Regions from separate parts of the Homo sapiens genome. Here all the other regions are linked to region 1. The links come from fine-mapping of genetic effects on gene expression. A gene starts in region 1. Each other region holds a variant in brackets. All regions are shown on one strand. Distances are between the middles of the regions.

Region 1 (10,538 bases):
CTGGTTATTCCATCCGAGCAGGATCATATCGGGGTTAGGAAGATAGACCTCTTATTTCATTGCAGAGGGAGAAAATGAGGCAGTGACTTGGTCAAGGTCATTCAGAGTAGGTGACAGCCAGGAAGAGCACCCAAGGGTTTTGGCTTCCAATCACAGTACAAAACACACACCCTTCATCTGGGGAAAGTACCCTTGAGTCAGGCAGCAGCCAGACAGAAGCACCATCAGGGCACTGAGGCCCGAGGGCTAGAAGGGGAAAAATCAAGGGACAAAGAATAAAATCACAGAACAGCTGTTAAGAGTCTACAAGTGCTGTGATCCTATCTGAATAAAACGCAATTTAGATTCACTTAGTCCTGCATCTTGGTTAACCTTATATAACTTCTTCACATTACATCACTAAGAACAATTGCTTTTAATGGGCCCAGCACCCAGACAAGTGAGACAAACTTCACGTGCCATGATGCTACACCTAAATAGCTTTCCCCATGGAAATGCTGGCCAGCGTAGGAGCCAAAAATAAACTGCAAAGCCAATTCCCGAGGGACCTGTCATCAGGGATGTTTCACACACACAGCTTCATAAAAGCAGGGTGATCACAGACAGCCCTAATTTAGAGGCACTATATCTCAAACCTGGTGAAACCCTGAATGTCATGGCAACTTAAAACAAAAGACAATGCAAAAGAGATGAAAAAGCACAAGAAAGCTAAAGCATAAACGCTTTGCCTCCGAAACGAAGGCTGAACTTGAACTGACAGACAGCAGTCCTGCTCCCTTACCTCGCAGGGGGCTGTTCTGCCCAACCATGACAGGTGGAGACCAGAAGGACCCACCACGTCTAGCCAGTGCTCATGAAGGTTTAAGTGGCTGCTGGCATTTGGCTTTGTTACAAAATTTTATTCAAAGGATGACTGGTGATGGGGAAGGGGCAAGCCTCCTCTAAGGAGATCCATGGCCAGATGGACAGTTTCAAGTGGCTACCTCGCTGAACAGGTCAGAAGACTGGAGAAAGGAAGAAGCATATAAGAGACACTGGCCACTAGCTCCTTTTGAGTCCTTAAGAGGCTTAATTTTGGTGGCTGGAAGCCTCAGGAACACGACAAATTCCATAGCTTCATGGAAGAACTTACTTTGTTTCTGTTGCTATTTTCATGAAGGCAGCAGGGAAAGGACATGACTTGCTGCCCAGTCTCTTCATCTCTCTTTGTAAATTTGTTCACTAAAAACTTGAGACTAAGATTAAGCCTTTACTCATTGCCCTCCAATTTACAGAGAAAACTACAAAAATACGCCACACCCTATGAAACACTCCACATTAAATAGATACTACTAAAAAATTTCAATGGGGCAAGGCACTGTGGCTTATGCCTGTAATTCCAGCACTTGGGGAGGCCAAGGCCGGTGAATCACTTGAGGCCAGAAGTTCAAGACCAGCCTGGCCAAAATGGCAAACTGCCGTCTCTACTAAAAATACAAAAATTAGCTGGGTGTGATGGCGCATGCCCATAATCCCAGCTATGCGGGAGGCTGAGGCACAAGAATCACTTGAACCCGGGAAGTTGAGGTTGTAATGAGCTGAGATCGTGCCACTGCACTCCAGCCTGGGTGACAGAGAGAGACTCTGTTTAAAAAAGAAACTCACACACAAAAATTTTCAATAGGTAGCAGCTTATTAAAAAAAATAAGTTTCGGGCGGGTGCGGTGGCTCCTGCCTGTAATCCCAGCACTTTGGGAGGCCGAGGCGGGCGGATCACCTGAGGTCAGGAGTTCAAGAACAGCCTGGCCACCACGGAGAAACCCCGTCTCCACTAAAAATACAAAAAATTAGCCGGGCGTGATGGCGTATGCCTGTAATCCCAGCTACTCGGGAGGCTGAGGTAGGAGAATCGCTTGAACCCGGGAGGCAGAGGTTGCGGTGAGCCGAGCTGGCGCCATTGCACTCCAGCCTGGGCAACAAGAGCAAAACTCCGTCTCAAAAACATAAATAAATAAAAAATAAGTTTCTCAAAACCATCACTACTGTAGTCCCAGCTACCTGGGAGGCTGAGGCAGGAGGATTGTGTGAGACCAGGAATTCAAGGACACCTGAGTAACAGTGAGACCCCATCCCAAAAATAATAAACAAACCAGTAACTCAAAAAAAAAAAAAAATCTGCCACTACATTATTTTGTCAATAATTGGGTTCTCAAATCTCATAACTAGATTAGTCAATCTTGGTCTAATGGTCTTTCCTTTACGGCATACTATCACCTTGATGGAATTCATAAGGAGCAGGAGGTGAGAAGAAAAATCATCCTAAGCCACAGTTCTGCAAGGTCCCAGGACCCACCCTACCACCCTGCTTGGTGGTCAGTAACAGACCAGGAGACATTCAGCTAATCAGTCACCTGTATCTATAGCTCATGGTAACAGAGCTACCTATCAGGTATAAACTCCACCCTCCAAAACAAACCTATTCTAAATCCTAAAAGAACTATATCTTGCCACCCATAAATGGGCATCCCATTCCACCACTTCCTTGGAATTTCTGCGTCCCTTGGCTTTTGCTAAACCCAGATGCTACAATGACAAAATACCACCACCGAGCCACAAAACGGATTTCAACAAATTCAAAGCAAGTCACAGGAGGCCAGCTGCAAAATCTATCCAAAGTGGTGCCTCAAAGTTGTTGTTTTTTTTTTCTTTTCTTTTGAGACAGAGTTTAACTCTTGCTGCCCAGGTTGGAGTGCAATGGTGCCATCTCAGCTCACCGCAACCTCCGCCTCCCTGGTTCAAGCAATTCTCCCGCCTCAGCCTCCCGAGTAGCTCAGGTTACAGGCATGCGCCACCAAGCCCAGCTAATTTTGTATTTTTAGTAGAGACAGGGTTTCTCCATGTTGGTCAGGCTGGTCTCGAACTCCTGACCTCAGGTGATCCGCCCGCCTCGGCCTCCCAAGTGCTGGGATTACAGGCATGAGCTACCACACCCGGCCGTTGTTTTCGATTTAACTCCAAAATAGGTATTTCAAGTCAAACTCTGTATAATTACACATAGTGCAGGAGGCAAACGGAGCATAACTGCAAACAAAGTTAACCACCAAAGTCAAGACGGACGGGAACAACAACTGATAAACATAGCGGCTCCCAGTAGTGAGCTGGGCCTACCTCCCTGAGTCCTAGGGCAGGAGGCCACAACACAGAGGATGCTGCAGTCAAATGAGTTGCGTTCCAAAAATCACGAATCTCTCAAATAGATGGGTGGTGAAAAACATTCTTAAAAACTCACAGAAAGACACCAGCAATCATCTGGTGTCACACAGTATACAGCAATAACCCTCTTTTACTGACACAATACTGGGTAATTTTTAACAAGCATTCTGTTGCACAAAAGTAATATTTTCCAAATACTCTTGTAAATGGACTGATAATTTTCCTTCCAAGTCTCAGAGCTGTTGCCTGATTCACATTTCTCTGAGGGGAAGCAGGGTCCTGTGTGTGGATTTGTGTCTGTGGATGTATGTGCATCCCCAACAAAAAGACCCCGCTGGTATCAGCAGTCACTTCTGCCTCTAGGAAATGGATCATGTGCTCTTCTCTGGAGTGGGGCCTTTTTCCTTCTCAAGCCGTTGTCACAGACCCCGCTTTGTAGTTTGACATGAAACCCCGTTCCTCTGTAGTCTTTGTCTCCCACTGTGTGAGAAACCCAGATCAACTTCCAAAGTGCCCTCCCCTGAAATCAGACCTCTCAACCTCCCAAGGACCTAAAACAGCGTAGGCCTGATTCCTGCTTAGAAATGTTTTCTTGAAGGGGAGGGGAAGTAGGAGAGAAAGAAGGGGTGTGAGATACAGGGGGGTGTGTGTGTGTGTGTGTGTGTGTCAATTACTGATAGGAATTCACATTCTGGAAAACAAGCCACCAAACCAACCCGGGTTCAAGGTTTCGGGTTTATGATGACAAGCCTCTTTGTTTTGTAAAACTGCTATACTCACTAGCATCACCCCAAAAACCATACGGGAGTCAGATGTCTGCTTAACAGCTTCAGGTCAAGAAAAAACCTTCGGGTTTCCAAATTGGTGACTCCCCTCTACCCAGGGTTCTGGATTATTTTTTTCAAGGAGTCCATATGCACTTAGGAGTCATCAATCCCGGTCGCAGCTGTCAGAATCCTCCCCCCCAAGTACTATTCATACCGGGGCTCTGATTGCTAATGATTTTACTCACAAAGTTCCCTGCAGCAATTAAAAGGAGGCAGCAGGGTAAAACAAAAAGAGGCTGGGTGGCTTCACCATAATGCAGCCTGTAAGCTAGTGAACTTCTTGGGTTCGGCTGGGATTTTCACCTCTATCTTTGTTTTGGAATGCCCACAACCCCTCCCTGCACGGACCCGGCACGGCCTTCATTTCTGGATGCACAATGCAGTACCGAGCTCCTTGGGGGTCAGCAAAACGCCGCACTGGTGTAACGCCGAACGCGCCCCAGAACCTGAGTCCCCACGGGAGTCGGTCCACGTCTCTAAATCTCGAGGCCGACACCACAGCATAACATGTCTTAGAAGTCCCCTCAAGTCGGGAAGCCCAGGGCCCGCCCGGTCCCGGGCCAGCAGTGCCTGGCTGGCGTGTGCGCCCAGAGCTGCTGCAATGACTTTGCATGGAGTGTACCCTCCACTGGGGCTGTCCTCCCGCGTCGGCCACTGCAGTGGCACCGCTCCGGGCAGGGCCCTGCACGCCGTCCTTCCCTGGCCTCGGCCCGGCCGCCGACCCCCTGCCGCCCGCGCCGCCCAGCCCCCGCCCGCCGCACCTTGGTCTCCTTCACATGCTGCTTGACGCCCTCCGGGTACCACTGGACGCGCACGTAGCCGCGGCGCAGGGGGCTGGCCCGGCCCTCCTCGTGGCCCGCGCCCCCGGCCTCGGAGCACCCCGAGCTCCCGCGGCCCTCCTCCTCGCCCTCCGAGTCCGAGTCCTCGCCGTGGATGAGGCGCACCAGCCCGAAGTGCACGGAGCCACGGTAACGGCCCGACACCAGGTCGTGAGAAAACAGCAGGCGCTGCGAGCCGGCTTCTGGGCCGGAGTCCGAGGACGGCCCGGAGGCCGAGTCCGAGGCGGGCGCCGGCGCCGGGACGGGGGCTGCGGCTGGGGCCGGGACTGCCTCCGGGGCTGGAGCCGGGGCCTGGGCTGGAGCGGGAGCTGCGGGCGTGGGGGCTGCGGGATCCGCCATAACTGCTCTGCGCGAGTCTCGGGCGGCGGCGGCGACAGCGGCGGCGAACGAGGCGCGGGGAGGCGGGACCAGCGGGCGCCGGGGGCGGGGCCATAGCGCGCTGACGTGTCCCTGCGTGGCGCCGTCGTCAGGGAGCCGGGATGCAGTTGCTAGGAGCCACCGCCTCGTCGCTAGGGGACGCTGAAGATGCCGCGGGGGGCGGGGGCAGGATGGAATCCACTAAGAAGGGGCGAGACCAGTGAGGATTCAACTAAAGGGAGCGAGAAGGGGCGGGGACCCGGGAGGAGGAAGTGGAGTGGCCACCGAGGAAGAGGGGAGTGGTCGGGGTGGGGCACAGGATGGTGGAGAGACTGTCAACAACTTTTAATGAGCTCCCTTGGCGTCCTAGCCTAGCCCCCAGGCACTGGGAGCATTGCAGAAAGAGAAAGATACTGTCCCTGTCCTCTAGGTGTTTCCAGTCTAGTTGGGGAGACAAAACAAATACACATTAAATAGATAACAAACAACTCCAACTTGTAAGGCTATAATAGATACGTGTAGAGCATATGTATAATGCACTGTATTCAGGAATTCCAAGCAGTTCGAACGTCATGACCCCTCAGAAGTTGACCCAGAAGCTGGTGAAGGAGGCCCAGAGAAAGGTAACAAAAGGATCAGTGGTCCCAGTGGTTTGGCTACAAATCCATGCAGATAAATTCAAAGCTCCCTGAAGCCAAGAATGAATGGCAAGAGGTAGTATAGTAAGGTAGCTAAGAGTGGGGACCACGGATTCCAATTTTTGGCACTGCCACTTACTAATCTATAAAAATAGGCACACTGATTAACTTATTTTCATCTTAATTTGCTCATCTGTGAAATAGGGATGATAATAGCAATACTCATCTCATTGGGCAATTGGAGGATTAAGTGAAGTAGAACAGTGCCTGGCATTTAGCTCCTTCGATAAGCTTAACCATTGTTGTACTATTTCCAAACTCCCTGCCTAGACTAAATTCCAGACTGGCAGAACTGTTATGGTCTGCTCCATATTGTCATTTTAAAATATAAAAAGTAGGCCGGGCGCGGCAGCTCACACCTGTCATCCCAGTACTTTGGGAGGCTGAGGTGGGCGGATCACGAGGTCAAGAGATTGAGACCATCCTGGCCAACATGGCGAAACCCCATCTCTACTAAAAATACGGAAAAAAAAAAAAAATAGCTGGGCGTGGTGGCACATGGCTGTAGTCCCAGCTACTCAGGAGGCTGAGGCAGGCAAATCGCTTGAACCTGGGAGGCTGAGGTTGCAGTGAGCCCAGATCGCGCCACTGCACTCCACCCTGGGCAACAGAGCAAGACTCTGTCTCAAAAAAATAAATAAATAAAAATAAATAAAATATAAAAAGTAACTCTAGGGCCAGGCGTGGTGGCTCATGCCTGTAATCCCAGCACTTTGGGAGGCAGAAGCAGATGGATCACCTGATCACCTGAGGTCAGGAGTTCAAGACCGCCCTGGCCAACATGGCGAAATCCCTTCTCTACTAAAAGTACAAAAATTAGCTGGGCGTGGTGGTGTGCACCTGTAGTCCCAGCTACTTGGGAGGCTGAGGCAGGAGAATTGCTTGAATCTGGGAGGCAGAAGTTGCAGTGAGCCGAGATCATGCCACTACACTCCAGCCTTGGCAACAGAGCAGGACTCTGTCTCAAAAAACAAAAAACAAAAAAAAGGCTGGATGTGGTGGCTCTTGCCTGTAATCCCAGCACTTTGGGAGACCGAGGCGGGTGGGAGACCCGAGGTCAGGAGTTCAAGACCAGCCTGGCCAAGATGGTGAAACCCTGTCTCTACTAAAAATACAAAAATTAGCCGGGCGCGGTGGCAGCCGCCTGTAATCCCAGCTACTCGGAAGGCTGAGGCAGGAGAATCACTTGAACCTGGGGAGTGGAGGTTGTAGTGAGCCTAGATCGCGCCGCTGCACTCCAGCCTGGGCGACAGAGTGAGATTCCGTCTCAAAAAAAAGTAACTCTAGGCCGGGCACAGTGGCTCACGCCTGAAATCCCAACACTTTGACTGCGCCTGAAATCCCAACACTTTGGGATGCCAAGGTGGGTGGATCAGTTGAGGTCAGGAGTTCAAAACTAGCCTGGCCAACATGGCAAAACCCCATGTCTACTAAAAATCCAAAATTAGCTGGGCAAGGTGGCAGGCGCCTGTAATTCCAGCTACTTGGGAGGCTGAGACACGAGAACCACTTGAACCTGGGGGTTGGAGGTTGCAGTGAGCCTAGATCACACCACTGCACTCCAGCTTGGGTGACAGAGTGAGACTCTATCTCAAAAGAAAAAAACTAACTCTAATTTAATGTGTCACCTAAGTTTCAAAGGGTTTAGATACATTCTCAGAGGACAGATTTAAATGGATTGTTAAGGAAAACAAGATCTGGCCCTAACCTTTCTCAGTCAACATCATTTTTTCCACATTTTTCTACACGATCATCAACGAAAGACTAGTAAGTTGGATATTACAGTATTTAGGTTCTTCAAAGAAGGCAGAATCCCAGCTCTTTGTGTTGTTTACAGGATCCTGAAGATACAGAACTATGTTCATAGAAAAGTTGGTTGGGTGTGGTGGCTCACATCTGTAATCCCAGCACTTTGGGAGGCCAAGGCAGATGGATCATTTGAAGTCAGGAGTTCAAGAGCACCCTGGCCAACATGGTGAAACCCCGTCTCTGCTAAAAACACAAAATTAGCCAGGTGTAGTGGCGCATGCTTGTAGTCCCAGCTACTCGGGAGGCTGATGCAGGAGAATCGCTTGAACCCGGGAGCAGGAGGTTACAGTGAGCCAAGAACACATCACTGCACTCCAGCCTGGGCGACAGAGCGAGACTGCGTCTCAAAAAAAGAGAGAGAAAAGTTAAAAGAACATGCACAAGGTCGGGCACGGTGGCTCACGCCTGTAATCCCAGCACTTTGGGAGGCTGAGGCAGGCGGATCACTTGAGGTGAGGAGTTCAAGACCAGCCTAACCAACATGGAGAAACCCCATCTCTACTAAAAATACAAAATTAGCCAGGCATGGTAGCCCATGCCTGTAATCCCAGCTACTCAGGAGGCTGAGGCAGGAGAATCACTTGAACCCGGGAGGTGGAGGTTGTGGTGAGCCAAGATCGAGCCATTGAACTCCAGCATGGGCAACAAGAGCAAAACTCCATCTCAGGAAAAAAAAAAAAAAAAAGAACATGCACAAAACAGATGGCAGCCTAAGTACTTAAGATGTCTTAGGCCAAGTACTAATAGAGTATTGATGTAATATTGGGATCAGGGTGGTTGTCAATGGACCCAAATCTTAGAAAATTTATCTACTAAGATATAGAACAAATGGGCTGAATCAGCTGAAGGGGGAGTTAGGATATGATTTTGGGGCAAGGCTGGGTTCTCAAACCATGGCCTTCCCATCCCAGAACACAATGCCAAATGACCATCTGGAATCACTGCTGTAAGGACGCAGGTCCCTACTCCCTCTCCTGTAGAGACCTGGGAGATTAAACAGCAGTAACATAGTAGCTTCTGTTCTGCCTCCCATGACCCTTTCAGCCCTGTTTTCTTGCCCCCTGATAACATAGCATTTATTAAGCACATATTATTGACCAGGCATTGTACCAGGTACTTCCAAGCACATTATCTTGTCTGTTATCACAATCTTGGATATAGAGAGTTTTTAACCTCATTTTACCAATGAAGAAATAGGGCCCAAGGAATTTGGCGCCTAAGGTAACAGGTAGTAACCTGAGGAGTTTCCCCACTCTAAGGGCAGGGGCTTTTGTAGTTATGCTATTTCTTTAGGCTTCCCTCAGAAGAACTCCTGATTGCACAGGGGAGTCCATGTGTCTATGTGTCCCACGGCGGGATAAGGCAGTGCAGACCTCAAATCTGCTTTTTGTTTCATGGCAGGGTCTCACTCTGTCGCCCATGCTGGAGTGCAGTAGCGTGATCTTGACTCACTGCAACCTCCGTCTCCCAGGTTCCAGCGATTCTCCTGCCTCAGCCTCCTGAGTAGCTGGGATTACAGGCGCCCACCACCACGGCTGGCTAATTTTTGTATTTTTAGTAGAGACGGGGTTTACCATGTTGGCCAGGCTGGTCTCGAACTCCTGACCTCAAATGATCCACCCGCCTTGCCCTCCCAAAGTGTTGGGATTACAGGCATAAGCCACCGCACCCGGCCTCAAATCTGCTTTTGTTGTCAAAAAATCAAGTGAGTTTTGCATTGTACTCCAGAGTATGCCTATGTTTGTTGTTTTAATGTAAAAACTAATGCCCTTTCCTCCCTAATCATTGAGTAATATCGGCACTCCTGGAAGACGTGTTGTGTTTATTCTGCGGCTTCTTGTAATAATGGCTAATAATAGCTATCACTTATTGAGCTGTAACTTCATGCCAGATACTCTACTAAGTGCTTTACATAGATTATCAGGATACTGCCAGGTTGGAGGTAAGACTCCTTGATTTTACATGCTGATCTCTCCCTCACTAGACTAAACCCTTAAGCATGTGGACCATGTTGTATTTGTGTGTGTAACCCTGGTGCCTAGGACAGTACCTGGCATAGGGATGGAGCTCAATAATGTGTCGTATTAGGCTAGGCCCATACAGTGGCTCACGCCTGTAATCCCAGCATTTTGGGAGGCCAAGGTGGGTGGATCACCTGAGGTCAGGAGCTTGAGACCTGGCCAACATGGCAAAACCATATCTCTACTAAATATACAAAAATTAGCCAGGCTTGGTGGCGGGCGCCTGAAATCCCAGCTACTCAGGAGGCTGAGGCTGGAGAATCACTTGAACCCGGGAGGCGGAGGCTGCAGTGAGCTGAGATTGTGCCACTGCACTTCAGCCTGGGAGATAGAGCAAGACTCCGTCTTGAAAAAGAAAAAAAGAAAATTATCATGTTAGCGGATATCAAAGGCCTGAGAACCTGTACCTCCATTCTGTCAGTTTCCTATCCTTTTTCCAACAACCAAAAGTTGAAGAAGCTGGGACAGAGCTGCCCTCTTTGGCTGCTCCAAATCCTTTCAAGTGCCCCCAGTTTCAACTGCATCTGAGCTGCTTTAGAGAATGAGACTCAGTAAATTCCTACCCATCCGATGGTGTCTTTTATGGACCTCACTCAGACCCAAGATGCTCTGGATAAGGTTTGAGGCTTGACTCCTTCCCAGACCCTGAGCCCCCAGCCACGGTCTCCATACACTCAGGCTGGCTAGCAGGGTAAGTGTGGATGGAAGCCGCTGCTTAGTTTTTATTTTTGTCATTGTTGAGGTGTAGGAAGGAGGAAAAAAACTTGATTCCCTAATGAAGAAACCCTCTCTTAT
Region 2 (10,538 bases), 61 kb before region 1:
GTCACCCATGAACCTGCTGTCTCTGCACACGGCTTCGGGGCTGCGCCTCTTCTCTGTGCTCAGCCTGGCCTGGGGCTTCATTGCTGATGTGGACCTAGAGAGTGAGAAGTATCGGCGTCTGGGGGAGATGCGCTTCACTCTGGGCACCTTCCTGCGTCTGGCAGCCCTGCGCACCTACCGCGGCCGACTGGCCTACCTCCCTGTAGGAAGAGTGGGTTCCAAGACACCTGCCTCCCCCGTTGTGGTCCAGCAGGGCCCGGTAGATGCACACCTTGTGCCACTGGAGGAGCCAGTGCCCTCTCACTGGACAGTGGTGCCCGACGAGGACTTTGTGCTAGTCCTGGCACTGCTGCACTCGCACCTGGGCAGTGAGATGTTTGCTGCACCCATGGGCCGCTGTGCAGCTGGCGTCATGCATCTGTTCTACGTGCGGGCGGGAGTGTCTCGTGCCATGCTGCTGCGCCTCTTCCTGGCCATGGAGAAGGGCAGGCATATGGAGTATGAATGCCCCTACTTGGTATATGTGCCCGTGGTCGCCTTCCGCTTGGAGCCCAAGGATGGGAAAGGTGTGTTTGCAGTGGATGGGGAATTGATGGTTAGCGAGGCCGTGCAGGGCCAGGTGCACCCAAACTACTTCTGGATGGTCAGCGGTTGCGTGGAGCCCCCGCCCAGCTGGAAGCCCCAGCAGATGCCACCGCCAGAAGAGCCCTTATGACCCCTGGGCCGCGCTGTGCCTTAGTGTCTACTTGCAGGACCCTTCCTCCTTCCCTAGGGCTGCAGGGCCTGTCCACAGCTCCTGTGGGGGTGGAGGAGACTCCTCTGGAGAAGGGTGAGAAGGTGGAGGCTATGCTTTGGGGGGACAGGCCAGAATGAAGTCCTGGGTCAGGAGCCCAGCTGGCTGGGCCCAGCTGCCTATGTAAGGCCTTCTAGTTTGTTCTGAGACCCCCACCCCACGAACCAAATCCAAATAAAGTGACATTCCCAGCCTGCTCGTCCTGTCCTGGTGACTGGGGAGAGAATGGGTTCTCGTTCTGGCCGGGACTATAGAATTTAATGGTAATGATGGCCAATGGTGCCCCCTGGGATGGGCAATGGATTTTACTGGCCCCAGGCATAGTCATTCTGGTGGGGGACTCAGGACCAGAGCTGGTTCAGCCTAATGGTGGGGGGGCCTCTACCACCCTGATAATTATAGCACCTCCAACCTGAAGCAGCCTCAGAGCTCAGCCAGCTGCCTGACCACACACAGGATGCAGCTCGGAGCTGGCATGTCTCAGCCAGGGCCACACAAGCAGCTAGTCCCAGCAAATCTCATCAGAGCCCCATGTGGATTTAGCAGGAAAGGGGAAATATCTGAGTTAAGGGCATTAGAAAACTGATGGGCCAGGCGTGGTGGCTCACACCTGTAATCCCAGCACTTTGGGAGGCTGAGGTGGGTGGATCACTTGAGCCCAGAAGTTTGAGACCAGCCTGGGCAACATGGTAAAATCTCATCTCTACAAAATGTGCAAACATTAGCAGGGTGTGGTGGCGGACACCTGTAGTCCCAGCTACTTGGGAGGCTGAGGCAGGAGAATCGCTTGAGCCCGGGAGGTTGAGGCTGCAGTGAGCCGAGATCGCGCCATTGCACCCCAGCCTGGCTGGGTGAGACAGAGTGAGAATGTCTCAAAAACAAAAACAATAAAACCACTGGCCACCGCCCCCGCCCCCCCCCAAAAAAATTGGCAAGGAGCAGGAGACCTCAGAAGTAAAAAATGGCAATATCTTGCTTTTTTTTTTTTTTTTTTTTTTTGGCTCACTGCAACCTCTACCTCCCGGGTTCAAGTGATTCTTGTGCTCAGCCTCCTGAGTAGCTGGGATTACAGGTGCATGCCACCATGCCCAGCTAATTTTTGTAGTTTTAGTAGAGATGGGGTTTCACCATGTTGGCCAGGCTGATCCCAAACCCCTGACCTCAAGTCATCTGCCCGCCTCTGCCTCCCAAAGTGCTGGGATTACAGTCATGAGCCACCACACCTGGTATCTTACCTTTTTAAAAGGAGTCTGTCATCCACCACAATGGTCTAGGGTTCTAGGGTTCTCCCAGCCTCCCTCAGCTGTCTCCTTTCCCTACCTGTCCCTGTGGAGGAGTGCCAGGCAGGAGTGGAAAGAATGTGGCAGGGAAGGATCCATCCAAGTCTAAACTGGGCAACCATTTTGGCTTAGCGTCCAGGAGTTGTGGCACCTGTCCACCGCCAGGTGCTATGACGTCGGCTCTCCCAGAACCTGGAAGGAGCTGAACTGGTCAGTTGTAGGTCTCTGGAGACTACAGCTGCTGGGAGGCTGCTCTAAGCTGGCTCCTGAGGGGCACACCACCGGCCAGGAGGAGGCCAGAGGACTGCTCCAGGACAAGAAGTACAAAAGGCATGCAAGCAGGTCTGGCAGGCAGAGGGCAGTGTGGGCGGGTGGGGGTGCTGTTCACAGTGGCCCCCACCTGGCCAGGAAAGCCAGGACCCACTGCCACATGCCTTCCCTGGCAACAAACAAGGTCTTTCCTTCCCCAGGAAGGGTGTGTGTGAGGGACACAAAGGCAACGGAGCCCAGATGAATGGCAGAGGGAGGTTTAATGGTGTCACCTTGTCTTGCTAATGAGCCAACACAAAAAAAAAAAAAAAAAAAAATGCAAGTAAAAAAAAGTTTAATCACACAGCACTTTATACAGATATCGTAAGCAGTAGGCATTCACATCTCCACATGTACAATGCACTGGGAAGCACAGCCCCACCAGTCACTCCGGGTGTTTCTCAAACAAGATACCGACTCGGTTCCAAATGCCACGGTGTGTGGTCCGGCTCCATCCTCCCGCAGCTCTGCTGGCTGGGCGGTCACAGCACAGCACAGGTGTGGAGCCCACTTAAGGCTGACAAGACGCATCATGCTTTGGCTTTTTTTTTGTCTTTTTTTCTAATAAGAGTTAATATCTTTGCTTTTGAGTTTTTTTTCCAACCTTAAATATTACATACATACACCAAAAATTACATAGCTGCAATGTGCTCAACAGCATCCTCTCGGCCTGGAGCTTCACATTATCAAAAGCTTAGAAAACTTGTAAACCTCTGGGCCTGTCTCTGGGCACTAGGAGAGCCCCCGCCGGCCGTCCCCTTCGGATTGAGCCTGCAGTTTGTAAGCGAAGGGCTGACAGTAGGCCTTCTAGTCCAAGAGAGGGCTGGCTCGCTTGGAGTTCAGTGAGCTGCACGCCTGTCCCAGTGTGACCATGTGATGGGGGAGGGGCCCTAGCACTTGCCCTGGCCTTGTGCAGCTGCTCTTGCCCCCAGCAGCCTCCGACAGAAGAGCAAGGCACCTATAGCTGTTGCTTTCCCTGCAGCTCCCTGGTCCTCAACTCCATGTGCATGTGTGAAGGCCACCACCTCTCCTGGGCGTCACCCGGAACCTAGCCTGGTCCCAACCTCTCTTAGAGAGCAAGTTCAACAGGCCTGAGGGCTATAACGTGGTCGACAGGCCATGTATAGCCGGGAGTCAGTGACAGCAGCTACAACTCCCAAGGGATAGTGTTGACGCTGGAGGACTAGGGAGGACCTGGGTGGTGGTGGCAGCAGGAGGGTCTGGGACACAGGGAGGCTTGAGTTGAACTAAACAGGTTGAAAGGGACCAGGGGAATTGTTGGCGCAACCCACACTTCATGCAAGGCACATGTGCTCTCCTGCGGGTCTGCAGGGAACCGGCCCAGAGAGCCCCGCGGCAGGCCCTGGAACACCCGCCTCTGACCTGAGAAGGGGCAGCAAGGGAGCAAGTGCCGGACATTCTGCTGGGGTGACAAATGGAAAATCGGCAACAGGGTTCCGATTTTCTTTGCCACAGGGGACCCGCCTGTTGAAAGCTCGCTTCAAAATAGAAACGGCAGCATCTCAACACACTTCTTGCACTTCAGCATCAAACTCACCTTGGGGAGAAGAGGGCAGTGGGTTTGCAGTGGGGACAGAGGGGCATGGGAAGAGGGGTGATTCCGGGGGGGAGTGAGCAGGCGGCGGCTGGCCTCTCCCACGGTGATGCTCTTTCCTCTGTGCCTGGCAGCTACTTGTCCTCTGTGCACTCCGGCATGCCTGCCTCTAGCAGGGCAGCCCGGAACTGCGTCAGGACACCCCGGATGCTCTTGATGAAACCCTTGGAAAGTGGGAAGAGGGGGAAGCCGATGTCAGGGTAGCCACTCTTCTCAGGTAAGAAGCTCCGGTAGCTCTTTCTCCGCTTCTTTGGTTTCACACTGGGTGGCACCGATGCGTCTGGTGCGGTCTCCGAAGTCTGGTCTGTGTGGTCCCTGCTAGCTGAGGCCAGGCCCTGGGCACCGCCCTCTGAGTCTGAGCCCTGGGAGGCCTCTCCTGGGGCTGGCCCTCCATCCTCAGGTTCTTGTTGGCCGGAGTCTGACAGCTCGGCTACAGCTGGGGGCTCTGGCGAGCTGCTGGCCTTGGGCACCCCGTTGGGCAGTGCCTGGGCCTTCTCCAGCAGGGCATGGGTTTCCAGCCAGGACTCGATACGGTTCACCAGCCGCCAGCCACCAGTGCTAAAGTGTTGCCTGATCTCCTGCTCAAAGACCTCGGGGGGCCGCCGCACCAGCTGGGTCATGGACTGCACCACGCGGATCAGCGCCATCTCATTGTAACAGCGACTGTTTTCATAGCCTTCCTGCAGGCCTCGGTCACTGTCGAAGCCGGCTTCGTTGTAGTATGGTTCATTTACCAGGATCAGACCTGTGTGGGCGGGACACCTTCCCTCAGTGGGTGAGAGAGGCCCACAATGCAGGCCTACCCTCCACCTGCCAGGGGGACTATCAGAGTCACTTTCCTCCACCGGCCCTCCCTTGTCCGCACCCCCGCTTCAGCCCAACTGTACCTTGGATGGAGATGAGCACCTGGAGAAGGCTGGACTTGCTTGTCCACCTCTCTGTCCCCTGAAACACACAGGGCACCATCAATTCTGTTCCCCAGGCCCCTATCCACCAGTGGCTCTTCCTCCTTCTTGGCTGGGGGCCTGGCCCTATACTCACCTTTCCAATCCAGGTGCCCAGGAGGCTGACACACACCTTCCCATTGTCATACAGGTTGGGGTTCAGGCGGCCACTGCATTGGGAGAGGTAGCAGAAGTGGGGGGGCACGGCTGGGTAGATGTTGGGGAGCTGGATGTCAAACAAGTAGAGGCCATCCTCGTAGGGGGTTCGAGTGGGGCCCTTGATGAGAGCTGAGAAGAGGTCCTAGGTAGGGAGGGAGGGAGGGAGGCCAAGGTTGGCAGGGGTGGAAGGGGGTGTCCTACATGTGGCATCTGCATCTGCACCTGCTCTTTCCCAGGACACTGTGCAGATCACGCAGGAAGAGCAGCACCTGGGACTCCAGATGCCACCAGCAGTGGAGAAGCTAAGGACAAATCTCTCTCTGCAGAACAGCCTGGAATCTTTTTTTTTTGAGACAGGGTCTTGCTGTGTCCCCCAGGCTGGAGTACACTAGTGCAATAATGGCTCACTGCAGCCTCCCAAGTAGCCGGGACTACAGTGTGGGCCACCGTGCCCAGATGATTTTTTTATTTTGTGTACAGACAGGGTTTCACTATGTTGCCTAGGTTGGTCTCGAACTCCTGGGCTCAAGTGATCCGCCTGCCTCGGCCTCCCAAAGTGCTGGGTTTACAGCCCTGAGCCGTCACTGTGCCTGGCCCTTGCCTGGAATCATTGAACCCTGGCTAAGAGAAATACTCGAAGTGAGTTTTTATCTTATCAGGTGTTTTTCCTCATAAATCATTACTTTAAGACTGTATTCCAGCTGGGCGCGGTGGTTCGTGCCTGTAATCCCAGCACTTTGGGAGGCCGAGACGGGTGGATCACTTAAGGTCAGGAGTTCAAGAGCAGTCTGGCCAACGTGGTGAAACCCCGTCTCTACTAAAAATACAAAAATTAGCCAGGCGTGGTGATGCATGCCTGCAGTCCCAGCTACTCGGGAGGCTGAGGTGGGAGAATTGCTTCAACCCGGAGGCGGAGGTTGCAGTGAGC[C/T]GAGATTGTGCCATTGAACTCTAGCCTGGGTGACAGTGCGACGCTATCTCAAAAAAAAAAAAAGATTGTATTCCTCAGCCAGACGTGATGGCTCACACCTGTAATCCCAGCACTTTTGGGAGGCCAAGGTGGGAGGACTGCTTGAGGCCAGGAGGTCAAAACCAACCTGGGCAACATAGTGGGACCCTATCTCTACAAAAAATAAAAAATTAGCTGGGCATGGTGGTGCATACCTACAGTCCCAGCTACTCAAAAAGCTTAGATGGGAGGATCACTTGACTCCAGGAGGCTGAGGCTGCAGTGAGCTATGATCACACCACTGCACTCCAGCCTGGGCGACAGAGTGAGACCCTGTCTTTTATTTTTTGGCTTATGTGTTTTTTTGAGATGGAGTATAGCTCTGTCCCCAGGCTGGAGTGCAGTGGTGTGATCTTGGCTCACTGCAACCTCTGCCTCCCAGGTTCAAGCGATTCTCTGCTTCAGTCTCCTCACGCCCGGCTAATTTTTTGTATTTTAATAGAGACGGGGTTTCACCATGTTGGTCAGGCTGGTCTCGAACTCCTGACCTTGTGATCCGCCCACCTTGGCCTCCCAAAGTGCTGGGATTACAGGCGTGAGCCACCACGCCCGGCCAACCCTGTCTTTTAAAAACAAAACAAAACAATTCCTCTAAACACCTGCTCCAACCCTTATCCCCAACAAGGCAAGTAGTACAAGCAGTTTCAAGCTGAAAGGCAGTTCCAGGCTGGTGAGGCCTGGGGAAGGGGGGATGGTCTCACAACCAGAAGCTGACAGTGAGGGTTTGAACTCCATGGGGGAGGTTGGGAGACCACCGCTCCACAGACATCTGGAATCTGTGCATCTATTTGCGTGCATCTGTGCACACACGCGTGTGTGTGGGATCTCAACTGACAGGGCAATGGGCGAGGTCAGTGATGAGCTGAGAAGCAGGGAAGGCAGAGCGCTAGCTGGGGCGAGGGAACCTCTGCACATGCTCTTATCGGTGCCACCCTGGGAGCCTCCAGGGAATGCACTACTTTTCTTCTCCTGAGTGAGATGTGGGGAAAACAGAACAAAACAAAAAATACTGTTTCCATCTTCCCTCAGCAGAGCTGAGACAGGCTAGAATTTTCAAAAGGAATTTTCCTACAACCCAAGAAAAAACCAAAAGCGTTATTAAGAATCTCAAGCAGCACTGGGCCTTAGGACTCTGCCTAGCCCTGTTCCAGGGTTGTGGCTACTCCGGGCCCATCTCAACAGCATCCCGCTTGGCTGCTCTCAGGATCGCTTGGCTGCTCTCAGGATCCCTGCTCTTTCTTTTCTTACTCCCTTCCTTCCAGGACAGGGCCAGAACTGGGGCCTCAGACTCAGATTCAGAGTCTAGCATAGTGCTTGGCTCGATGCACAGGCCCAGTAAGGGACTGCGGAGTCAACAAGGTGGCAGGCAAACGGGCTTGCCTGTTCCGGAAGGATGCACTCAGCGCTGCCTCAGTAAACATGACTCAGAGACACTAGGCCCCGTCCACGAACAGAGGAGTGGGAAAATGGAATGTGGTGTGGCCACATGCTGTCATCCTATTTTGCAGGTAAAAAGGAAGAAACTAGATCATTATGAATCAACACAGGTTGGTCTTAAGCAAATTAGAGATGATGTGTACGACGACATATTCTGTGTGTAAACAAATCATACAAAATATTATGTACTTATGGTGATACATGAAAATGTAAAAATATTTTTTTAGTGTATAAATAATGTAAAAGTATAAAAAAAAGGTCATCCGTTTGGAAGGAGACCCACTAAACTTCCAACAATCCTCTGGGTGTGGGAAGAGGCCTATGATTCGGGGAGAAAGGGAAGTGAGGTCTGGTCAAAGGCAACTTTAGCTCTTCCATTTCCACTCAAAGGATCTGTAATGTTCTAATTTTTCAAAAAGAAAAGTAGGCTTGAGGAGTAATCATAATATAATTAATTTCAAAGTAATTTTTTTTTTTTTGAGATGAAGTCTCGCTCTGTTGCCCAGGCTGGAGTGCAATGGTGCGATCTTGGCTCACTACAACCTCTGCCTCCCAGGTTCAAGTGATTCTCCTGCCTCAGTCTCCCGAGTAGCTGGGATTACTGGCACCCGCCACCACATCCGGCTAATTTTTGTATTTTTAGTAGAGACAGGGTTTCACCGGGTTGGTCAGGCTGGTCTCAAACTTCTGACCTCAGGTGATCCACCTGCCTCGGCTTCCCGAAGTGCTGGGATTACAGTCGTGAGCCACCGCACCCGGCCTATTTCAAAGTAATTTTTTTTTTTGAGACAGAATCTCGCTCTGTCACCCAGGCTGGAGTGCAGTGGCGTGATCTCGGCTCACTGCAAGCTCCACCTCCCAGGTTCACGCCATTCTCCTGCCTCAGCCTCCAGAGTAGCTGGGACTACAGGCGCCCGCATGGTGGCGGGAGAGTTTTTTGTAATTTTTTTTTTTTTTTTAGTGGAGACGGGGTTTCACTGTGTTAGCCAGGATGGTCTCGATCTCCTGACCTCGTGATCCACCCACCTCGGCCTCCCAAAGTGCTGGGATTACGGGTGTGAGCCACTGCGCCCGGCCGAGAAAGTAATTTTTTAAAGGAGGGAGGAAAGAAAGAACCATCTGGCCTGGACACACGGCTGAGTCAGCCCTCACCTGACTGAGCCTGTGACCGCCCCTGTAAAAGGTGGGTGGGTGAGTGTCCTCGCAGGTGCCAGTCAGCCCCGGAGGTTTGGGGACCCAAGGTTGGTGGCCTCTTGGGCACTGGGTGCCCACACAGCACATCTGCACCTGCCCATGCCAAGCCTACTTGCCATTCTATCTTCAAAAGTCTTGACCATGATGCCCTCAGGCAGTGAGGTAGCCAGCAGCGCCATCTCCTTCCGCACTGTGCTGAAGAACTTCTTGGCTTCTGGAGGCTGGAACTCAATTTTCTTAAAAGAATGATTTGCTAGAGGGGGGAAGAGAATAGTCAGTCCCTCATGGAGAGGCCCTGGAGCTCCATCTGCCAACCTGGCTGGACAGGTGAGCACACCCACAGACTTCCCACTCGCCGCTGCTGGCCTCAGCACTGTGACCACACAGGGAAATGGTTTGCCCTGGGGCAGTAGCTGGGGTCTGGCGAGGGGACTAACCACCCTGCACCCAGATCTGGTGACACAAACAGGAGCCCCGAGAAGGCGGGGGAAGGCGAAGACCAGGCAAGGGCTGACTCACAGGGTGCAAACTCCAGTACGGAGAAGACCTCGCCCTTGGCGCTGGTGAAGGTGACGCCAGGCTTGCCGCCACACTGCTGGCACAGCACCGGGGTTTCGCTGGGCCACTCAGCCTTCACAGGTGACTGCCCCTCGGGCTTGTCCTCCTTGCGCTCTACGTCGGGCACTGCTTCCATCTTCTCCTCCTCTACAATGGCCACATTGTCCAGGGTCTTCTTGAGGTTTTCCTGTAGCTTCTTGATGTCATCCAGAAACTTCTTCTCCCGAGTTGGCTTCTCAGGCTCCACAGTCGGAGAGGTGGGCGAGCCCGTCAGCAGCTGCTCCACAGTCATGTTCTTGAGGCTCTCCAGGATCTTGATGGCCTCTTTCAACTCCCGGAAGCTCTTGGGTGGCCCGTCCTTGCCAGCCTTCTCCATCAGCCCGGCCATGGGGGCAGCCATGGCCACAGCCCCCTGGACGGCAGCTGTGGCTGCCTCTTCACTGATCACCACTCCCTTGTCCTCAGGGGCCACCGGCTGCTCCAGGGGTGGGATGGGGGGCTCCTCTATCTTGGGGTGCTCGTCCTCCACCAGCCCATTGTCCGTCTCCCAGCTGTCACTATCATCTTCCCATTCATCCGAGGATGCCCCGCTGGTGCTGCCTTCTACCGAATCGTAGTCTGACTCCTCAATCTCAGACTCTATGTTGTACAAGTGCTGGGGGCAGAAGGGAAGTGCCAGGGTAAGCAGACAGGAAGTCACCTCCCCACCACTAAGGAGGAGCTCTGGGGATCCCTGATCCGCACAGCTGATGGCGACTGGGCTCATGAGGCCTTGGCAACCTCATTCCACCCTTTCCCTGACCTCTGCTCTGGCTTTTGCAGTCCCTAGGTCTCTGGGAGAGGCCCTTCACCTGTCCCACCCTCCAGCTGGACCCAAAGCCCCAGCCAGTGGTCTGTTCCAGCCTCTCCTCCTGCTCTGTGCACTTCGTCAGCATCTGTCCAAGGCGTTAGGGGACCTTGGCAGGCCCAGTCCCACACCTGAAAAGCGCAGGGTCAGCTAATGATGCAGCCAAGGAGGCCTGTGTGGGGAGCTGGGAACATATGACAAGAGGGGACATGTAGAAGGGCCGACATATCCTGCTGCGTTCCCTGGAATGGCCGTTAAGGTGATGGGGCAAGCCATTCCCGCCCCCACTCCTGCCCCCTGTGTGGACCAGGAGAGGAGAGCTGGGCTGTGTGGCTCCAACCAGGAGGCGAGGGAAGGAGAGCCCGTGTAGCCCTTCTGCTCAGGACCCAGCAGGTG
Region 3 (10,538 bases), 29 kb before region 1:
CGGCTAACTTTTTGTATTTTTAGTAGAGACAGGGTTTCACCGTGTTGGCCAGGATGGTCTTGATCTCCTGACCTCGTGATCCACCCGCGTCGGCCTCCCAAAGTGCTGGGATTACAGGCGTGAGCCACCGCGCCTGTCCGGAACAGATTTTAAGGCAGTTGTTTATCAGCTTGAAAAACACGGATTTTTCAACCCAAACCCATTGAATAAATTTCTGGGTGGAGAGATTAATGTTCCCTAGGTGAATCTGATAGTTAAAACAGTTCAACTTCTGACTGCCACGGTGACTCGCGCTGTAATACCAGTACTTTGAGAGGCTGAGCTTTGAGAATCACTTAAGCCCAGGAGTTCGAGAACCAGCCTGGGCAACCTAGTGAGACCCTATCTCTACAGATTTTTTTTTTTTAAATTAGGCCTGGTGGCTCATGCTCATGGTCTCAGCTACTTGGGGGGCTCTGGTGAGAGGATCACTTGAGCCCAGGGGGTCAAGGCTGCAGTGAGCCACGATCGCACCACTGCACTCTGGCCTGGGTGACAGAGTAAGACCCTATCTCAAAAAAAAAAAAAAAAAAAAAAAAATCCCTTTCTCCTGAAACAAAATATACTCTGACTACTTAGGAATATTTGTCTTTAATTAAAAAAAGTTTTTAAGTTTACTGCTGATATGGGGGTGTAATGAAGAAAAAAATAGAAAAAACATTTTAAGTTAAATCCAGGGATCAAGGCGTAAAAGCAAGGTGACTGAAAATAACTAAGAAAGCGAGAGTTGACTGATGCCCACCCTTCGGCACTCCCTGACACACCCTTCCTGTGGTCCAGCCCTTGGGAAAGACACAGAGGCACCAGGTCCTCAAACTGATATGGCCCCAACCTTGACCCACCTCTGCTCAGGTGGTCCAGATCCCAGCCTGGGCCAGTTTCCATGCTGACAAGAACAAGGCCCCGGGCCAGTTGCTGTCACAGTGGCAAAGAGCAGATCCCGCCAGCACGCATCCTTGGGAACCTGGTGGACATGGTTTCGCCACCTTGAAGACTTCCAGGCAGGAAGGCCATGCTGTGGCCCTGAGAACCCGATGCTCAGAGCTGTGACTAGAAGGGAGCGAGCTGGTGTGAAAGCGTGGCTCTACCCACGCGGAAACCTCAGAGTCTGAGAAAGAAGCATGCCGGCAGAAGGAGGCATGCCTGCTTGGCCCCATTCCTCGGCCATGGCCCTCGGGACCCTGGTGCTCCCTGCCCCTCCTTCATCACCTCCCTGCAACTGCGAATGCACAGAAGCATGACATAACCTTGGGGCAGCAGAAAGCTGCTGCCTCACTCCTGCCACAGCTCATGATCCGGAGCCTCACCCCTACCCAGCGCAGCAGTGGCCCCCTTCGCACCACACTCCCCCAAATGCCAAGCCTTGGCTGCTAATCAACAGCCACACTCTGAAAATGCACCGTACCTTCCTAGGCAGACTCATGCTGAAAAGGAGCCACTCAGCAGTGCTATTTTTAAAAATGCAAATATGGTAGGAAAAGGCAGTAAAAATAACACACAAGAGCCCTGATCCAAGGCCAGTTGTTTCCCCGGGGGCCAAGTTCCCACTGAAGTGGGAGCAGGGGGCTATGGAGGAGCAGGGGGCTATGGAAGTGCAGGGGGGCCTATCTTCCCACAGTGGTCCTGGCTTCCTGCATCGTTTTGTTTTCCTAATACCTGTGATTTTAGATCAATCCCAGTGGCCAGAAATGTTACAGACTCGCCCACATCTTTACCCAAACACACCACCGAGCAACCCTACATGCAGGCCAGGAGAACCTACACTAGAGGCACTGGCAGGTTTCATGACCCACCCTGGAATGACTATGTCAAAACAATGATGATTCTCCACTCCTTACAACTCTGTAACTACATCTTTGCGAGACAAACTGGGCTGGGGCGCTGCAGACATTTCTTTTTCACAGAGAAGCAGGAGCTTGATAAAGGCATGGGAAGCCAAGGAGGAAGAGACACAAGACGTCCTGGGATCGAGTGCAAGCTGGGGTCTTGCACCACCAGGTGTTGGTCCTGCCAGCATTCAAAATCGGCCTGCCACACACTGTTTATGTCTGTGGCCACAGAAAGCCCGAGACAGGCTGACCCCAGTGAGTTGGCAGGGACGGCCTTGTCACTCACCCCCCTAGACTTCCAAATGCTAACCTTGACAGTAGGAGTCCTCCCTTTCTTCAGCCCCCCACATCCCTGCAATTAGGTCAGGACAGGATCAGGTAGTCTGCTTTCTAAGCCAAGATTTCCAACAAAAATAAATACAAACACATAGCAGCATGTATTTGGGCTGAGTTCCTGGTAAAAGGCATGGATGGGAAAGTGAACAGGACTCAGCACCACCCATTTGCTAAGTGGGTGCAGTCCATCAGTACTGCAGACTTCGCTCCAAAAGGCCGTTGCTCCTCTGACAGGAAATGGGAAACTCACAGCTACAGTGAGCTCCCTAGAGCTGAGCCCAACCGTAGGGAAACACTGCAGAAAGAAGTGACGGCCTGCTGTCAGCGCTCATGGCTGACACCACATGGTCACCATTCTTCCAGATACTGAAACACTGGAGTCACCCACATTAAAGACACTAGAGCATGGAACATAATTTGAGTGACTATTTTCTTTTGTCTTTTTTTTTTTGAGACGGAGTTTCGCTCTTGTTGCCCAGGCTGGAGTGCAATGGCGTGATCTCGGCACACCATAGCCTGCTTCCCCGGTTCAAGCGATTGTCCTGCCTCAGCCTCACAAGTAGCTGGGATTACAGGCATGTGCCACCACGCCCAACTAATTTTGTATTTTTAGTAGAGATGGGGTTTCTCCATGTTGGTCAGGCTGGTCTTGAACTTCCGACCTCAGGTGATCCGCCCACCTTGGCCTCCCAAGGTGCTAGGATTACAGGCGTGAGCCACCACGCCCGGCCCTGAGTGACTATTTTCTATTTTCCCAGGGATGGAGTAATTAGCACCATTTGAGATCCATTACAACTGGTAACTGATGCCTTGGGACTGCTGGCTGAGAAGGGCTTGTGGCCTTTCTTTCATGGAGTAAATGCCACGTGCTTCCCATTTCTCCCATCCTGGCTGGCTCTATTTCCCTCAGTCACTGGGTCCCAGGAGGAAGTCAACAAGTCGCTGGCCAGGAGTCTGGAAAAGACAAGATGACGCCACCAGACTGCATCTGAGGACCCATCCCCTCTCCAATGGATCTGCATCCAGAGTGCTCAAGGACCACAAATCCCAGGTGGAGGAAAATGGGAAGATGGAGATGTCTCAAAGGATCTGCTGTGTCCTTCCTTTAAGGGACAACCAAGCCACAGGAGGGTCAGGCAGGCCTGTGGTGATGTTTTTGAGACCTCTATGTGTGATAAGTAATGGGACGTGTGCTAAGTAACCCCAAAATGCTAGTTCTCGTGGCCTCTCTCTCCGGCTTTTCCTCAATGGCTCCCAACTATTTCAGTCACTCCACTCATTCACAGCCTGAGTGGTCCTGAAAGGGAAGATGATGTGTGGAAGCACGACCTAAATGAACAACACGGGGAGAGGGCATGGGCAAAGGGCGGCTCACTTTAACCTGGCTTTTCCCAGGCTGAGCTCAAGTCCCATCTCTCCTCCAGCAAGGGCTTGACACAGACACAACCTGCTCTGTCATAAGGTCTGGGCACCCAGTGGCCTCTTCCTCCCGTTCATCATATGCTGTAGACCATCCATTCAGTTGTTCCCTCGCCCATTCAGCAAACTGAATAACCACTGGGTGGGCAGACGCTGTGCCAGATGCCAATGAAACATCTGGAACACGAGACAGTCCTGCAGGTGTCCGAGCAGGACGGAGGTTCCATCTGCAATGAAGCCGAGGCACGCCAGGCTTGGGGAGGTGTGGCCACCACAGGGAACAGCCATGGCTCAAATGTTCCCCCAGATAGCTGCACCCAAGTTTCTGCTCAGATGTCACCTCCTCAGAAGGGCTTCTCTGGCCACCCTGTCTGGAATTGCTCCTCCTCATTCTCTATCCACCTGCTTTATTTTTCTTCACAGCACTTACTGTTCCCACACCTGCAGTCTGTGTGCCCCATGGGGGTTAGAATGTGAACCACACAAGGGCAGGCACTGGGCACCAGTGCACCCCAGCAAGTGCCTGGAACACAGAAGGGTGCCTCTGAGGAGTCACTAGAGACAGCTGAAGGAAAAGCCATGGGAATTGGGAACAAGTGTCAAGAAAGGAGTGGCTAGCAATGCCTGATGCTGCTGAGAGATCCAGTGCCACGGGGAAGTGTCCCTGCTGACCTGGGCTCAGCAGTCCCAATGGGTGGCGTGGGCAGAATCCCCAATGGCGGGGCCTGGAGAACATCTGGCAATGCAGGAAACAGGAATCACAGCATGGAGCTCATTCAGGAACTACGGCTGAAGAGCAGGAAAAGGAGGAAGAGGTAGGTGAGGGGGTGGATGTGGGCTGAGGAAGGGTCTCTTTTCAAGACATTAAAAATGGGGTCAAGCTGGGCACGGTGGTACGCACCTGGAGCCCCAGCTACTCAAGAGGCTGAGGTGGGAGGATTGCTTAAGCCCAGGAATTCGACGCTGCAGTGAGCCCTGATTGTGCCAATGCACTCCAGCCTGGGTGACAAGAGTAAGACCCTATCTCTAAAAAATAAATACAGTAAAAATAAAAATGAGGGCCCGGCGTGGTGGCTCATGCCTGTAATCCCAGCACTTCGGGAGGCCGAGGTGGGAGGATCATGAGGTCAGAAGATCAAGACCATCCTGGCTAACATGGTGAAACCCAGTCTCTACTAAAAATACAAAAAATTAGCCAGGCATGGTGGCACGTACCTATAGTCCCAGCTACTTGGGGGGCTGAGGCAGGAAAATCGCTTGAACCTGGGAGGCGGAGCTTGCAGTGAGCCGAGATCACAACACTGCACTCCAGCCTGGGTGACAGAGGGACACTCCATCTCAAAATAAATAAATAAATAAATAAATAAATAAATAAAAAATAAGGTCAGGCAGGAAGCTGCCAAGGGAGAGCCTGAAGATTCAGGCCCAGGACATAATTGATAGAGGTGGCCTACGGCACAGTGTCCGCAAAGGAACCAGAACACAGGAGAGGAGACTTCCTCTCTTCACACCAGGTGGCTCTCAGCTACTTCCAGGTTGGGTTCTTTTTTTTTTTTTTTTTTTTTTTGAGACGGAGTCTCGCTCTGTCACCCAGGCTGTAGTGCTAGTGCAGCGGCGCGATCTTGGCTCACTGCAAGCTCCACCTCCCAAGTTCACGCCGTTCTCCTGCCTCAGCCTCCTGAGTAGCTGGGACTACAGGCCCCCGCCACCATGCCCAGCTAATTTTTTTGTATTTTTAGTAGAGACGGGGTTTCACCATGTTAGCCAGGATGGTCTCGATCTCCTGACCTTGTGATCCGTCCGTCTCGGCCTCCCAAAGTGCTGGGATTACAGGCGTGAGCCACCGCGCCCGGCCTTTTTTTTTTTTTTTTTTGAGACAGAATTTAACTTTTGTTGCCCAGCCTGGAGTGCAATGGCACAACCTAGGCTCACTGCAACCTCTGTCTCCCAGGTTCAAGCGATTCTCCTGTCTCAGCCTCCCCAGTAGCTGGGATTACAAGTGTGAGCCACCACACTCTGCTAATTTTTTGTATTTTTGTAGAGACAGGGTTTCACCATATTGGCCAGGCTGGTCTCGAACTCCTGACCTCACGTGATTCGCCCACCTCAGCCTCCCAAAGTGCTGGGATTACAGGCGTGAACCACCGTGCCCAGCCCACTAGTATTTTTTATATTCGTTACATTCTGAAATGGTATCTTGGATATATACTGAGTTAAATAAAACATTAAAATTAATTTCTGGCTGAGTGAGGTGGCTCATGTCTGTAATTCCAGCACTTTGGGAAGCCAAGGTGGGAGGATTGCTTGAGGCCAGGAGTTCAAGACCAGCCTGGGCAACAGAGTAAGACCCTATCTCTACATAAAAAAATGGCAGCAGGATCCCTTAAGCCAGGTGTTTGAGGTTACAATGAGCTATGATCGAGCCACTGCACTCCAGCCCGGGCAACAGAGCAAGACTCCATCCACCTCTACCTCCAAAATTAATTTCACCTGTTTCTTTTTTTTTTTTTATTTTTTATTTTTTTTTTTTGAGACAGAGTCTCGCCCTCACCCTGTCACCCAGGCTGGAGTGCAGTGGCGCGATCTCAGCTCACTGCAAGCTCCGCCTCCCAGGTTCATGCCATTCTCCTGCCTCAGCCTCCCGAGTAGCTGGGACTACAGGCACCCGCCACCACGCCCAGCTAACTTTTTTGTATTTTTAGTAGAGACGGGATTTGACCATGTTAGCCAGGATGGTCTCGATCTCCTGACCTCGTGATCCACCCGTCTGGGCCTCCTGAAGTGCTGGGATTACAGGCGTGAGCCACCGCACCCGGTTCACCTGTTTCTTTTAATGTTTTTAAAATGTGGTCACTTCTCAAGGTCCTTTCGACAAAAAAAAAAAAAAAAAAAAAAAAAGTAAAAGAAAAAAATGTGGTCACTAAAAAATTTTAAAGGACCTACTTGGCTCATAT[T/G]GTATTTTTTTAAATAATAGTTTAGCTTAATTGTATCAAAACAATGCATGCCTAAGTTAAAAAAAAAACATAGTACTAAAAGGCTTAACAAAAACAGGCAGTCCCCCATCTTACCCTCTCAACTGTGCTCTTTTGAAGCAAATACTTTTTAATTTTTTAGCTGTTTGAATATTTACCTCCATACATATAAACAACATGCTTGCACCCTAATTCCTAACTTATTATAGACATTATCTATTGACGTCCTGTTTTGGTACCTGATGACCTAACTCTTACCCTCCCCTCTGAAGCCCTTTGCCTGTACTCCATCCTTTCAACAGTTCCACTGCATTAATTGAAAAATCTAAATGTGTTATGATGGAGGACAGAGCTCACAGCTGAACCAAGTGGTGTTCCGTGTCCTCACACAACTATGTACATATTGATACTTTTGTCAAATACCTATCCATAACTTTTCTAAATATCTTCAAATTACCTACAAATTATCGATCAGGTATCTTTGGGCTTTGTGTCTTTTTCTTGTCGATCTCTCTCCCTCCTGCAGAATTCCATCCTGTCTCTCTAACTCAGACTTTCCTCTGCCGCTCACCTGTGTCAGATCCCGTTTCCTGGATCCTGGGAAAAGTCCCTGGTTTTGGTGAAGAACAACTCCTTCTATCTCCTCCCCACAAGAGGTTCACAGGAGGCACTTTTTTTCCAGCCCTTACATGCCTAAAAGGAGGGTCTCACTCTGTCACCTAGGCTGGAGTGTAGTGGTGTGATCATGGTTCACTGCAGCCTCAACCTCCTGGGCTCAAATGATCCTCTTACTTCAGCCTCCTGAGTAGCTGGGACTACAGATGCACAACACCACACTTGGCTAATTTTTGTATTTTTTTGTAGAGACAGGGTTTTGCCATGTTTCCCAGGCTGGTCTCGAACGGGGCTCAAGCGATCCTCCTGTCTTGGCTTCCCAAAGTGCTGGGATTACAGGCGTGAACCACCATGCCCAGCCAAAAGAACTTTTTTCTACTCTACTTGACGTAGTTGGGCTGGATACGGAATTCTCTCAGAATGTTGCAGGATTTGCTCTGCTGTCTTCCAGTCTGAGTACCTGTCTTAACTGGCACATATAATTGTTTACTTTCATTGTGATCCATGTGGATTTATTTCTACTACCTTTAGGGCTTTCTGGCTACCATATTTTTTCTTTGCTCTCTTTCTTTTAGACAAATGACCTAGTTTTAAAATTCCATATTTTTACCCTCTGTGAGTTTGAAAGCTTTAAACACTATTTCTATTCTTTTGGTGGTTACCCTTAAAATTGGAACATGTCTACTTGACTCAGAAAGTTTGAAGTCAATCAATATCCCTCCTACACTTCCCAAACAGTTCAAAGAACTTAAGAGTGTGTTCATTCAAATCACCCCCTCACTGATTTCCATTTTTTGTTGGGACTTTGGTTTTTAATCCTCTCCAAATTAGTGACGATCACTTTCAGAAGCGAATGCTTATTCAGATTTACCTGCACTTCCCAACGCCTCTGGATACCATTACTGTCCGCATTTCTCCTTTCTCCTTACTTCCTTCTTCCCGAAGTACAGCGAAGGTCTCTTAGTAAATACAACTTTTTTTTTTTTCTGTGAAAATGTCCTTATTTGTTCCCATTATTGAACGATAATTTAAGCTGGTTGCTGAAAACTAAGCCAACAACTGATTTTCCTTAGCACACTGAAGATTTTACTTCCTTATGGCCTCTACTGTTGCTACTTGGCATTTCCTGAGTTTCACTGTTGAACCTGGGGAGTAATCTGCCTTTCTTCTCAAGCTGCCTTTAGGATGCTATTTTTCCCACTGGGCCCTCATACCACCATCCATGTTTGTAATGTCTCTTCCTCACAAGCATCTCTTTTATCTCTGCAGAATTCTAACTAACTTCTGCAGATCTGTTTTCCAGTTCCCATAGTTCTCTCTTGAGAATTTATGCTATTTGCTGTTTAACATTTCCACTGGGGTTTTAACTCAATGTTTTCACTCTAGAGGCTTTATTTGATTCTTTAAAAAATAATCCCTTTTAAGATGTATTCTGTCTTATTCTTTCCTTTGACATCTATTTCTTCTTTTAGCCCTTCAATCACTTTAGACATTTCTATTATAATCTCTTCTATTATTTGAATTCTCATGTTGAGAATCTTGTGTTTGTTGTGATCGCTGACTCATGTTCTAATTTCTACATGCTTGGTAATTTCCTAGAACAAGCTCATCATCTGTGGGCATCCTAGGATTCCAAAAGGCCTGTACTGTGCAAGGGTCACTCTAGAAAAGTTCTGCCTTTGTTCTGCAAGCAAGAAGCTTCAGGGGTATCGCCAGTCTGCTGGCTGGTCTGGTGCCAGCTCGGGCATTCCTGCAACATGTAGATGTTATAAACACAGACTTAGAACTTGGATGTTTTCCACTGTTCACAGAAGACTTCCTCCAACACAATCCAGAGTGTGGGGCAATGATCAGCTCCCTTGACATTTCTCTGATCCCATGGGGGAAATTTTCTTGCATCCCTTTTACCTGGGAATGGCTCTTTTGAGGGGATTTCTGTTTCAACTCCATGCTTCACGTGTTCATGCAAATCCAAACCTCTATTATTGTTAGGGTCGATTTCAGGGTCCAATGAACCCACCTTGCCCCTCCCCAGAGCTGCCTACTCTGCTCTGGCTTTATATTCCTGCTTTGCTTTCGGTTCTCTGTTTTTCTTTCTTATTCTGTTGTTATAGCTTATATAGCATTTTAAGTGATTGTAATGGGAGCGGTTCTAACTTTAGCTCAAGCTACCATGTCACTGAAACAGGAAATCCACCCCATTGTCTTCTGGCTTCCAATGAGGTTGAAAAATCCAATCCATCTTCATTCCCAGTCTTTTGTATGTGACCCGTTTTTGCTCTTCGGAAGCTTTATGCCCAGTGCTCTGGAATCACACAATGTGCCACAGGACATTTTCCATTTACCATTTTTGAAACTTATGACTGTCCATTCTGAAATAATTCTTGTTTCTCTGATACATTATGGTCCTTAATTTTCCCTTTCTCTCTTTATAGACTTCCTAGATGTCAGACGTTTTTAATCTGTTTCCTGGGAGCCTTCGTCAACTTCAAAGAAAAAGTAATGGTTTTAATTTCCGAGAACTCTTTCTTGTTCTGATTTTTATAGTAACTTTTTATTTCATGGATAAAATATTGGCTCTTCTTTCTGAGTATATTTGCCATGTGCTTTAAGGCTTTCTCCTACCTGAATCAGCTCTGATTCCTCGGAGATACATTTTTCTCTTTGCTTTCTCTGGCCTCTACCTTCCATACTGGAAGCTTTCTGAACATATCCAGTTATTCTTGGCATCCATTCCTATTTAAAAGTGAGGCAATAAGAGATCTTTGTGGTGATGGAAGAGTTGTGTATCTTGACTGCTGTTACATGTGGTTACATGAATCCACAGATGTGATAAAGGGTGTGAAACTGTATGCACATATTGTGTACCCATGTCAATTCCCTGATTTTCATATTGTCTGTGATTATATAAGACATGACCATCAAGGGAAACTGCATGAAGGGTAGAGGGGACCCCTCTACTATTTTTTTTTTTTTTTTTGAGATGGAGTCTTGCTCTGTCGCCCAGGCTGGAGTGCAGTGGCATGATCTTGGTTCACTGCAACCTCTGCCTCCTGGGTTCAAGCAATTCTCCTGCCTCAGCCTCCCGAGTAGCTGGGATTACGGGCGCATGCCACCATGCCCGGCTAATTTTTGTATTTTTAGTAGAGACGGGGTTTAACCATGTTGGCCAGGCTGGTCTCGAACTCCTGACCTCGTGATCTGCCCGCCTCGGCCTCCCAAAGTGCTGGGATTACAGGCATGAGCCACCGCGTCCAGCCAGCCCTCTACTATGTTTGCAACTTCCTATGCATCTATAATTATTTCAAAATAAAAAGTTGGGCTGGGG

Direction of the effects. Alleles are on the strand shown, and positions count from the first base shown. SD is a standard deviation of normalised expression in the study named.
For the expression in whole blood of the gene that starts at base 5,208 in region 1, allele T in region 2 goes with a higher level than allele C (small effect, 0.11 SD a copy in GTEx).
For the expression in lymphoblastoid cells of the gene that starts at base 5,208 in region 1, allele T in region 3 goes with a higher level than allele G (moderate effect, 0.43 SD a copy in GTEx).

The links. PIP is the estimated chance that this variant, and not a neighbour inherited with it, causes the effect. A credible set is the group of variants that fine-mapping cannot tell apart.
Region 2: its variant is the best candidate, but not a certain one, in a credible set for the expression of UBE2O in whole blood (GTEx, PIP 0.65).
Region 3: its variant is the best candidate, but not a certain one, in a credible set for the expression of UBE2O in lymphoblastoid cells (GTEx, PIP 0.64).

What each region holds. Positions count from the first base shown.
Region 1 is chr17:76,447,945-76,458,482 of GRCh38, forward strand. It overlaps UBE2O (ubiquitin conjugating enzyme E2 O), which reads right to left and starts at 5,208. Exons shown (of 18, transcript NM_022066.4): 1 at 4,781-5,208. The coding sequence starts at 5,197. It also overlaps a transcript of AANAT not described here. RefSeq lists silencers at 4,560-4,759, 4,880-5,419, 5,214-5,382.
Region 2 is chr17:76,386,872-76,397,409 of GRCh38, forward strand. UBE2O (ubiquitin conjugating enzyme E2 O) reads right to left here. Exons shown (of 18, transcript NM_022066.4): 14 at 9,257-9,950; 15 at 8,854-8,990; 16 at 5,039-5,242; 17 at 4,885-4,942; 18 at 2,585-4,742. The coding sequence ends at 4,072. SPHK1 (sphingosine kinase 1) reads left to right here. Exons shown (of 6, transcript NM_001142601.2): 6 at 1-984. The coding sequence ends at 715. Among named protein-coding and RNA genes, the nearest start is that of SPHK1, 7.5 kb to the left of the region's middle. RefSeq lists a silencer at 3,865-4,039. The variant C/T (reference allele first, on the strand shown) is at 6,029.
Region 3 is chr17:76,418,730-76,429,267 of GRCh38, forward strand. The region is part of intron 1 of UBE2O (ubiquitin conjugating enzyme E2 O); the gene reads right to left. Among named protein-coding and RNA genes, the nearest start is that of UBE2O, 29 kb to the right of the region's middle. RefSeq lists enhancers at 3,806-4,307, 4,308-4,807. The variant T/G (reference allele first, on the strand shown) is at 6,578.